4 separate regions of the Homo sapiens genome follow, and regions 1, 2 and 4 are each linked to region 3. Evidence: fine-mapped expression QTL. A gene starts in region 3. Each other region holds a variant in brackets. All regions are shown on one strand. Distances are from middle to middle. Region 1 has its middle 9.4 kb from the start of DENND10. Region 2 has its middle 93 kb from the start of MIR4682. Region 3 holds the start of SFXN4 (sideroflexin 4). Region 4 overlaps GRK5 (G protein-coupled receptor kinase 5).

Region 1 (2,702 bases), 71 kb before region 3:
GCCTGTAATCCCAGCACTTTGGGAGGCCAAGGTCGGCAAAGTGCTTGAGTCCAGGAGTTTGAGACCAGCCCAGGCAACTTGATGAAACTTCATCTCTACAAAAAATACAAAAAAATTAGCCAGGTGTTGTAGTGTGTGCGTGTAGTTCCAGCTACTTGGGAGGATGAGGTGGGAGGATCACCCGAACCAGGGAGATTGAGGCTGCAGTGAGCCAAGCCAGGAATGTGCCACTGCACTCTAGCCTGGCTAACAGAGTGAAACCCTGTCCGCAAAAATTAAATTAAATTAAATTTAAAAAAGAATTTCAACAATTAGCCATGCAATGAGTGTTCTGATTTTTTTTAAAAGATTGAGGGGGAGAGTATTTGGGTGGGGCTTACTCAATCACGTAAGCCTTTAAATCCATCCATGTGGAGAGGTCAGAAGCAAAGGAAGGGATTCAAAGCATGAGCAGGCACACAGAAGGAACCCCAAGGCAAGAAACTGCAGGCACCTCCAAGGGCTGAGGTAAGCCCTCCAGCCAACAGCCAGCCAGAGAACAGGGACCTCAGTCCTACCCCTGCAAGGGAATTATTCTGTCAACAATCTCAATGAGCCTGGAAGCAAACGCATCCCCAGAGCCTCCAGAGAGGAATGCGGCCTGGTCAGTGCCTGGATTCACAGCCTGGCAAGACACTAAACAGAGCATCCAGTCACACTGTTCCTGGACAACTAACCTACAGTGAGCCAATGAAAGGGTTTTGTTTGTTTGTTTGTTTGTTTGTTTGTTTGTTTTTTGAGATGGAGTCTTGTTATTGTTGCCCAGGCTGGAGTGCAATGGTGCAATCTCGGCTCACTGCAACCTCTGCCTCCCAGATTCAAGTGATTCTCCTGCCTCAGCCTCCTGAGTAGCTGAGACTGCAGGCGCCCACCACCATGCCTGGCTATTTTGTTTGTATTTTTAGTAGAGATGGGGTTTCACCATGTTGACGAGGCTGGTCTTGAACTGCTGACTTCAGGTGATCCACCCCTCTTGGCCTCCCAAAGTGCTGGGATTACAGGCATGAGCCACTGTGCCCGGCTAAAAGGGTGTTCTTTAAGCTTCTAAGTTTGATTAGTTACACAGCAATAGAAAACTGATACAAACCCAGAGACCTTAACAATTCTCTTGGCATTAACTCTTTTTCTTTTTTGAGACAGTTTTGCTCTGTCGCCCAGGCTGAAGTGCAGTAGCACAATCTTGCCTCACTGCAACCTCCACCTCTGAAGTTCAAGCGTCTCTCAAGCCTCAGCCAC[C/G]CGAGTAGCTGGGATTACAGGCGCACGGCACCATGCCTGGCTAATTTTTTTATTTTTGTATAGTACAGGTGGGGTTTCACCATGTTGGCCAGGCTGGTCTCAAACTCCTGCCTCAAGTGATCCACCAGCCTCAGCCTCCCAAAGTGCTGGGATTCCAGGTGTGAGCCACTGCACCCGGCCAGCATTAAGTCTTGCAGAAGCAAGAATGAAACACTAACAGTTTAAAATTTTTAAAGTTACTTTGCCTTATGTGAAATGAAAACAGAAATACAGCTCAATGGAGGATAAGGAGATTGTTTAAGGTTTAACTGTACAATTCAGACTGCTCAAGCAAAAACCTCCTACAGGGAAACTGGGACTATAAACATGTTATTGTACTCACATTGGTGTTTTTAGGACTAGAAGGTACATTTCTTCTTCTTCTTCTTTTTTTTTTTTTTTTGAGACAGAGTCTCGCACTGTCACCCAGGCTGGAGTGCAGTGGCGCGATCTCGGCTCACTGCAACCTCCACCTCCCAGGTTCAAGCGATTCTCCTGCCTCAGCCTCCCGAGTAGCTGTGACTACAGGCGCGTGCCACCACGCCCAGCTAATTTTTTTTGTATTTTTAGTAGAGACGGGGTTTCACAATGTTGGCCAGGATGGTCTCGATCTCTTGACCTCATGATCCGCCTGCCTGGGCCTCCCAAAGTGCTGGGATTACAGGTGTGAGCCACCTGTGCCCCGCCTTAGAAGGTACATTTCTTTTGCGTTTTTTTTTTTTTTTTTTTTTTAGACAGGGTCTTACTGGGTTTTCTTGGCTGGAATGCAGTGGCCTTGGCCTGATCATAGCTCACCACAACCTGGAACTCCTGGGTTCGAGTGATCTTCCAGCCTCAGTCCCCCAGGTAGCCAGGACCACAGGCACACACCACCACACCCACCTTGCATTTTATTTTCTACAGACATAGGATTATAAATACATTTCACTTCATCCCATAAACATGCCATATTTGGAGTCAGATGTGGCTTTTAACCCCAGCTTTGCCATTTACTAGCTCCGTGACATTGGGCATGAAATCTCTCTGTAAGCCTCTGTTTTCCCATCTGCAAAACAGCCACAATAAGGGTGTGGTGGGGTTTAAATGAGACACTACATGTAGTGCTTTTTTTTCTTTACTCTTTTTTTTTTTTTTTTCTGAGACAGGGTTCTTGTTGCCCAGGCTGGAGTACAGTGGCATGATCTTGGCTCACTGCAGCCTCCTCGACTTCCTGGGCTCAAGCAATCCTCCCACTTCAGCCTCCTGCGTAGCTGAGACCACAGAAATGCGCCACCATGCCTTGCTAATTTTGTTATTTTTTGTTGAGAGGGGGTTTCCCCATGTTTCCCAGGCAAGTCTTGAACTTCTAAGCTCAAGCAGTCCACCTACCTTGGCCTCCCAAAGTGTGT
Region 2 (2,702 bases), 890 kb after region 3:
ACTCAGGAATGGAAAACCAAAATATATATTAAAAAAACAAAAACAAAAAATATACTTTCAAATTCATTTTGTTCATATATTGAGTAAGGTTTTTCATCTATATTATTAATAATGCAAGACTATAAACTTTTTTAACTTAAAAATTATATTTTGAATCAAAGTTATGTCTACTTCTCAAAATATTTTGGAAAAAATTTTCATCTTCTTTCATTTTCTGTTATGATTTGAATAGCATAGGAATTAACTATTCTTTTAAGGACAGATAGAATTTATGGACAAAAGTATTTGGGCCTGGTTCCTACTGTAGTGGTAGATGTTTGACATATTTTCCCCAAGAATTCTATCGTGATTGTTCAGTTCTATCTCTTCCTGAGTCTGTTTTGGCAATTCATTTTACTAACAGCCATCAATTTCATCTTGGTATTCAAATTTATTGGCAATAACCAGTTATTTTCATTAACTATTTTAATTGCTCTCATATTTGTAGTCTCATTTCTAATTTTTCTTACTTTCCTGCTTTCTTTTTTCCCCCATTTTTTGAATTGTTTTGAAGGGGTTAGTCCTTTTCATTCAGCTTTTCAAAGACCCCACTTTTGGCTTTCCTTATAACATGCTTAGATTTCAAACAGAAAAAGGAATTTAACTTTTGGGTTAATTATTTATTTGGTCCACTACATTGAAGATAGTCCCAAAAGTTCACTGGTTATTTTGTCTGCTCCCCGAAAACCCCCTTTACTTCATAAATAGAGTTTAGAAGAGGGCCAGGACAGGGGATTTGGGTCAGGGAAATTAACCTTGACTGCACTGTGAGCCACTGCGAACCACTTTGTGACTTTATTACTATGCAACATTGATTAATGTACACTCTAGAACTAACTGCTGGAAGGAGACACTGCTGGGCAGCTTGAAGGCTTGAGGAAGAGGAAAGGCAGAGGGAAGGAGGGGAGAGAAGGGGAAGGGAGCAGAGAGTTGGGGTTGGGGGAGAAGGAATGCTTTAGCTTTTCAAATGATAGAAACTTTTGTCCTTTGTTTTAACCTCTTCAGCTGCCCAAGCCACTCCCAGAGCTGTGATCCTTCAGTGCCTCTGGTTTCCAATAGTTTCTCAAAAGTCCCCTGTGTAGTTTAGCTCTTCACATCCTCTCCTGGCAGAACACACAATATAAATGTAAACTGTCATCATCATGGCCCGGGACCCCAGGGAAAGAGATGACATTTTCTTGTGAGACTG[G/A]GAGAAGCAGCAGGAGCAGGTGTGGGGAAGGGTTGTTTTGCAAATCAAATGTTGTGGAATGGTTTTTACAGTCTTGGGGGAGACACAGTGTTTACTAAGAGGAAGTGGATAATGGTCCTCAGGTTGTTCCGTCTACAATAGTGAAGAATAAGCAGACGGTGTGCGCCTGTGGTCCCAGCTACTTGGAAGGCTGAGGTGGGAGAGTTGCTTGAGCCCAAAAGTTTGAGGCTACAGCGCGCTATGAGTGGTACCATTGCACTCCAGCCAGGACCACAGAGTGAGATGCTGTCTCAAAAAAAAAAAAAAAAGAAATGCAGACAAGATCAGTGTATTCAGGGTACTGGTGAGTGCCTGTTGAGCCCAGGAATTTGAATCCAGTTTGGGCAACATAACGAGATCCCATCTCTCCAAGAAAGGAAGAAGCAGCAGATGTAGCTGATGATCTAGCTTAGCACTCTCAATGCCTGCTCCTGCCATGCTGATGCTGGGCTTTGCTCAGAAGTGAGGGGCATATAGGTGGCACTCCCTAAAAATAGGTGGCAATCACTTGTTCATTTTCTCAAAGTGGGTCAACATTAGTTCCCATCCAGGGTGATTTTGCCCCCCCGGAGCAAAATCATTTGGCATTTGGCAATGTCTGGAGACATTTTTGGTTGTCACAACTTGGACTACTCCAAGGAGTACCACTGTCATGTAGTGGCATGGAGGCCTGGATGCTGCTGGACGACTTACAATGCACAGGACAGCCCCACAGCAAAGAACTATTTAGCACCCAGTGTCAGTCCTGCTCAGGATGAGGGGCTCTGGGTGAGGGTGATGCCCAGCATGCAACATTCAGCCTGGGGATGTTGGTCGAATGGTCAGGAGCTTTCAGTAGGGCAGCACTGGTCAGTATGATTTCAGGGGATCCATTTTTGTAATTTTTTTGCCTAATTTTTTTAAGTCCATGAATGAGACATGATTACATTCATAGTGCAGAAGATTTAAACAATTCAGGAGTGAGGAGAACAAAGTGTGACTGTTCTGTTTGCTTTCCTTTCTTGCTTTTACCCTTTTCCTCCTCTTCTCTCCACCCTTTCCTTTCTGGGGGCCTGGTCCAGCTGTCTTCAGCTGCTCACACATTTTTTTCTTACATAAATGGCATCATTCCACACCCACTCTTATATAACTTACTCTTTTCACTTAGCATTTGAGTAAATCAACTTCCAGGCTGTTCAAAGTTTCACAATGAATAGATAGTCTCATATTGTGGAAGTAATCAAAGTAGCACTACTTTATGGCACCTGCTCTATGCCAGGCAGGATTCCAGAGTCTCTGCATGTGACTTCTTTAGTCCTCATAAAACCTTGTGGGTTAGGTGCTATTTTATGGATCAGGAAACGGAAGCACTCAGAGGCAATCTGGGTGAGTCCTCACTTTTTACCCCTGCACTGTCCAGAAAAGCTATTATCTGTGGAGCAGGGAACCTTTGGTG
Region 3 (2,613 bases):
CGTCGAATAAAGGACTTAGGAGGGAGAAAAGCAACAGAGAGGTTAATGGCAGCAGAAAAATAAAGATATAAATACTAACAGTTGGCTTTTTTTTTTTTTTTCTGAGAACCTGCCAGGGTCTGTGATCTGCCTTTTACTGGCATCATCTCCTGGGATCCTCCCAACCTCTCCAGGTTCTCCAGGTGAGGAAGCTGAGGCTTAGAGGGACTCCTGAATGTACTCAAGGCAACACAGCCAGGAAATGATTCAGAAGTCTGTGCCCTTAACCTCTCAGTATCAAATTGCCCTTGAGGGTTAAAATCCCAGACTTTGGGGGTTCAAATGGTCTTACGTTCATATCTCACATACGACCTCGAAGCAATGGCCTAGAATATCTCAAGAGTCTGTGGCCTCACTCTCTGCTTGCTATAAGGCTTCACTCCAGTGACAAAGGATGGACGCCCCATTAAGGGCTCAATGGTGCAGCTGGGGTCACACTGGGGAAAAAGAGGTTTGCTCCAGCAAACTCTAAACTTTGTAGTGGTTCTGGCTTTAAGCCTTGGCTCTGCTGGAGCAACCTGAGCTCACCGCCCCTTCTCAATTTCCCCACCTAAAAAAAAAACAGGGCTGGACCCCACTTTAGGAGAGGCCTCAAAGAGAACCCCCTAAAGCCCTGCTCTCCAATTCGCCACATGCGGCTGAACCCAGATGTGCTGTGAAGGTAACAGACGCCGGATTTGGAACACTCTGTACCAAAAAAGCGAGTAAAATATCTCAGCAATGTTTTTTACTGATTACATGTTGAAATGTTAATATTTTGCACCTGCTAGGCTAAATGTACTGTATTGTTAAAAATTTCAGCTGTTTTTATCTTGTTTAATGTGGCTACTAGAAAATGTTTAATTACCTGTAAGGCTCACATCATATTTCTATTGGACGGTGCTGCCCTAGACGCTGCAGGGAGATAAGTCCTGCTTATGTCCTGCCCAAGGGTGGCTTCCCAAAGCCTCGGGGGTCTCACCGAAAGTGGCTGAGCTTACCAAGGTGCGAGAGCCTGTTTCTCCCCAATCTGCTGCTCAGCCACAGCTCAGGCAGTAGGGAGCAGCCACCTGCGCGGACTGGGCCCCTCCGAGAGGGCAATCTGGAGGGTGACGTTGTGGTCGTGGGCATCTGGCAGCTTCGATTTCCCCTGCGTCCCCTGCCGCGCCCTAAGGGGTGAAGGCCGGTGGTGCGCGTTCCCGGCACAACTCCGAGAGGAGGAAACGGAGACAGGGGGCGCCCACGTGGCCTGGCCAAGGTCACCCGGGTCAGCCCGACTCCACGCGGCCCGGCCCGCCCCCTCCCTGCCCCTAGTCGCGCCGGGCCCGGGCCGTACTTGGCGCTCGGTGATCCAGAAGCGCACGTTGGGCTCAATGAAGGCGGGGACGGCGTCTCTGCGTCCTAGGAGCCGCCCAGGTTGCGTTTCCTCCTCCTGTTCCAGGGACATTTTGCGCTGGTTAGAGTGGCCGCCGCCGCCAGGCCGCGCGTGGAGGAGGAGCCGGGCGGCGAGCCCCGCCCCGGGCCGCGCGCACCCGCAGTTCCCGCCCCAGGCCCGCGCGCCCGACGTCCCGTGTCACAGCGCCTCGGGGCCCTTGCGCGCCCACTGTTCCGGCGAGCGCAGCTCTCCCACGGGCCACGTCCTCCCAACCCTGCTTGCCCTGCTCCGCACCTTTGGGGAGCCGGGCCGTCTCCAGGCCCCAAGGGGTCACTATCGGAACCCGTCATCACAGTACCTAATGCGAAGACCCGGAAAGGTTGTGAGTGAGGCCGTCCGCAACCTCACCCTGCGCTTCTGCCGCGCCCTACCCCTGGTCATTACCCTCGAAAATCCCTCCGATGGCCCACGAATTCCAGTGTGCATGGTGTTGCGCAGTCAGGCCGGCTGCATCATGGTCTCAGCCCAGGGAAAATGTCAAATGCGGTGCCCCTTATTCATGTTACTGAGAATTTCAAGAGAGTAACACCAGAGCATCAAACCAAGTATAGGGCCCTGGGCACAGTGCACTATCCCTCAGCCCAACAGGTTGTTTTTTTTTTTCTTCCAGTGTTGGGGCAAATCCAGTTCCTTTTGTTGACTACCAAATAGGTACCATTTGTAAAGAAAAACCTGCCTTCCCTTCCTCCTCCCACCTGCCCTTCCCCAGCACAGGGCCAGGCGGGGGCTGTGTGCACTTAAATTCACGGAAGCCACAAGTGTGCCTAGGTCGTTCAGGGGGCCTCCGGAGTCCAGGACTGGGGGACCCAGCACATCATCTAGTTGTGTGACCCTCGCCAAGTCAGTATCTCGAAGTCTATTTTCCCATCCGCAAAATGAGGATAACAATTGTACCTATCTCAGGGTTTTGTTTCTGATCAAAGGAGATAAAACATCCCTAACACAGCACTGAGCCCTCAGAAGTGCTCAGTATTGGCCATTAACCTCCAGCGGGCCAATTCCTTCCCTTGCCCTGCGCCTCCAGGAACAGGAAATTGGCTCATGGCGTCCTTCAGGCCTGTATGACTCTGCTTCTGTATTTGCTCAGTTTGCCTAGCTCACTTTTCTTAACCTCCAGGGGTTTATCTCCTCTTCCAGGAAGCCTTCCCTGACCCTCCGAG
Region 4 (2,702 bases), 130 kb after region 3:
TCCTCCTTCTGCTCATCTTCTTCCTCCTCCTCCTCTTCTTCTTCCTCCTTCTTTTCCTCCTCTTTTTCCTCCTTCTCCTCCTCTTCCTCCTTCTCCTCCTCTTCCTCCTTCTTCTCCTCCTCTTCCTCCTTCTCCTCCTCTTCCTCCTTCTTCTCCTCCTCTTCCTCCTTCTCCTCCTCCTCTTCCTCCTTCTCCTCCTCTTCCTCCTCCTTCTCCTCTTCCTCCTTCTCCTCTTCCTCCCTCTCCTCATCTTCCTCCTTCTCCTCCTCTTCCTCCTCCTCTTCCTCCTCCTCCTCTTCCTCCTCCTCCTCTTCCTCCTTCTCCTATTCCTCCTCCTCCTCTTCCTCCTTCTCCTCCTATTCCTCCTTCCCCTCCTCTTCCTCTTCCTCCTCCTTCTCCTCCTCTTCCTCTTTCTCCTCCTCTTCCTCCTTCTCCTCCTATTCCTCCTTCTCCTCCTCATCCTCCTTTCTTCCTCTTCCTTCACAAACACATGGTGCCTCGGCTTCACAGGGATAGCCCCCATGTTCATCTGCTCATTGCTTCTGGGTTGCTGCCTTGGGCAGGTGGCTATTTTGGGGTCTTTCAGATAATTTAAAAAAACCCAATACCCTAAACCTCCCCAAACCTAATTCTCACCCTCAGGGCCTAAGTACATTTGAAATTGCACACAAACTTAAGGTTGCTGTGTGCTAGATGGGATGCGGTGAGGGACAAGGCTCTCCAATCATAGTTTTTCCTAGGTGTCTGTGAGGGATTGGTTCCAGGACCTCCTGAGGATACCAAAATCTGCAGATGCACAAGTCCCTGACAGAAAATGGTGTCATATTTGCATATAACCTATACACAGCCTCTGGTATATTTTAACTCATCTCTAGATATAATGTAAATGCTATGTAAATAGTTGCTATACTGTATTGTTTAGGGAATAATGGCAACAGAAAAAGTCCATACATATTCAGTACAGATACAGTTTTTTTTTTTTTCTGAATGTTTTCAATCCATGGTTGATTAAATCCACAAATGCAGAGCCCGTGGATATGGGAGGCCAACTGCGTGTTGACTTTATGTTTTACAAAGCACCCTCTAATCATTGAATACTGGGAAACTTCAAGCTCTGGGCCAGGCACTGCACTCAGCATTTGGTGGCTTCATCTCCTGTCATATTCTGGAGCCGTATGAACAAGAATTTTCCCATCTTATAAATAAAAGAGCGAAGACCTGAAGAAGTTATGTATAAGCTGTTGTTTAAGGTTATGCAGCCAGGAAGTGGCTTACTCTCTTTGAATCTTACCCCATTCTTGTGAAACAGGTGGAGGACATATTTTTATCTCCCATTTAACAGACAAGAGACTTGAGGTGGCTGGATGCCGTGGCTCACACCTGTGATTCCAGCACTTTGGGAGGCTGAGGTGGGTGGATCACTTGAGGTCAGGAGTTTGAGACCAGTGGGTGCTTTTCTCTGGCGACGCCCAGTCTGTTTCATTAGCTAACAGATGCTAAGCTCTACCATGGGATAGTTGTAAAACCTTGAATGCAAAGCTTGAATACAATTGAGGAGCAGAGAT[G/GGGGTATACA]GGGTATACAGCAAGCACTCTGTGTATTAAGTGATTGTTGTTCCTCGTCTGTCTTTTGACCTCCCAGTGCACAGCCATGGGTCTGTCACTCTGGTGACCTTTGGCCGTGGGCATTGGGAGGATAGTTTATGTTGACTGCGGATTGCCAGGTACCAAGTATCAGGCAAATTGGCTTCTTTGTACATTCCTCCTTCCGGATAGACCTTGGGCCTCCTCGTCACTGCCCAGGAGATTTGCTGGGAATCTAGGAGGGAGTGGATGATGGCCTGGATGCCTGGGTGGTGCTGCCTCTGCCCCGAGGCAGCAGTCAGTGCCAGGGTGGGGCTGGGTGGGTGCTGCCATCGCCTCGGGGTGGTACCCGAGTCTGGAGTAGGAACAATACTCTATTGTTACGTTAAACCTGAAATAGACGCCTTCAGATGGAGGGGGTGAGTATGAATCTATTACGATCTAATAATGACAAGAGCACTCTGTGTCTTTTCAGATGCTTGACAATCACCTGCTAATCCCGGGGGTCTGGGAGCTGAGCATTTTCAACCTCCACCCCCACCTCTGCTTTGTGGAGTTGGGGAAAAACAGAGACCCAGGAGCTGTGAAATGAGGGAGGCTCAGCTTCTCCACTTACTTTCATGGTGTGAGGAGACGCATGTGTATTTGCCTCTGACCCCTCCTGCAGGGAGGAAAGCGTACCTGGATCTGGGTGAGAGGCATGTGTGGTGATGAGAACATTTCACAGACCCAAGTTCAAATCTCTGCTCTGCCACTCGAGCATATTTCAGAACCTGTCCTAGTCTCAATTTCTTGGTAAGGTGAGACTATAACCACTTTTAATGGGTCCACAAGGCCTGATCCAACCCAGCAGGTGCTCTTGCGGGTGAGGACCACATCTCGGTTGGTTAGACGTGTCCCCCCAGCCCTCTGCCAGGACCTAGGAGTTGGGGTGAGGGGCTGGGTTGCAGGGAAATGTTGAATCCCAAAAGCAGATTTCCCAGGCAGGCACTGTCCTGACCCAACCTGCCGCCAGCCACCTGTCAAGCTGGACCTCTGGGCTTTTCTCTCCAAATGCTCTTGTTCTCAGGAAAGGGCCAAGACTCACCCCAGGCACAAGATAAGTAGGAATCAGGTGTGAGCCAGTGG

Evidence for each region. PIP is the estimated chance that this variant, and not a neighbour inherited with it, causes the effect. A credible set is the group of variants that fine-mapping cannot tell apart.
Region 1: its variant is the best candidate, but not a certain one, in a credible set for the expression of SFXN4 in whole blood (TOPMed, PIP 0.82).
Region 2: its variant is the best candidate, but not a certain one, in a credible set for the expression of SFXN4 in hypothalamus (GTEx, PIP 0.78).
Region 4: its variant is the best candidate, but not a certain one, in a credible set for the expression of SFXN4 in breast (GTEx, PIP 0.86).

The regions. Positions count from the first base shown.
Region 1 is chr10:119,093,363-119,096,064 of GRCh38, forward strand. No RefSeq gene overlaps it. Among named protein-coding and RNA genes, the nearest start is that of DENND10, 9.4 kb to the right of the region's middle. The variant C/G (reference allele first, on the strand shown) is at 1,276.
Region 2 is chr10:120,050,603-120,053,304 of GRCh38, forward strand. No RefSeq gene overlaps it. Among named protein-coding and RNA genes, the nearest start is that of MIR4682, 93 kb to the left of the region's middle. The variant G/A (reference allele first, on the strand shown) is at 1,229.
Region 3 is chr10:119,164,183-119,166,795 of GRCh38, forward strand. SFXN4 (sideroflexin 4) reads right to left here and starts at 1,532. Exons shown (of 14, transcript NM_213649.2): 1 at 1,355-1,532; 2 at 1-14. The coding sequence starts at 1,465. RefSeq lists silencers at 983-1,169, 1,211-1,680.
Region 4 is chr10:119,291,880-119,294,581 of GRCh38, forward strand. The region is part of intron 1 of GRK5 (G protein-coupled receptor kinase 5); the gene reads left to right. Among named protein-coding and RNA genes, the nearest start is that of GRK5-AS1, 46 kb to the right of the region's middle. The variant G/GGGGTATACA (reference allele first, on the strand shown) is at 1,566.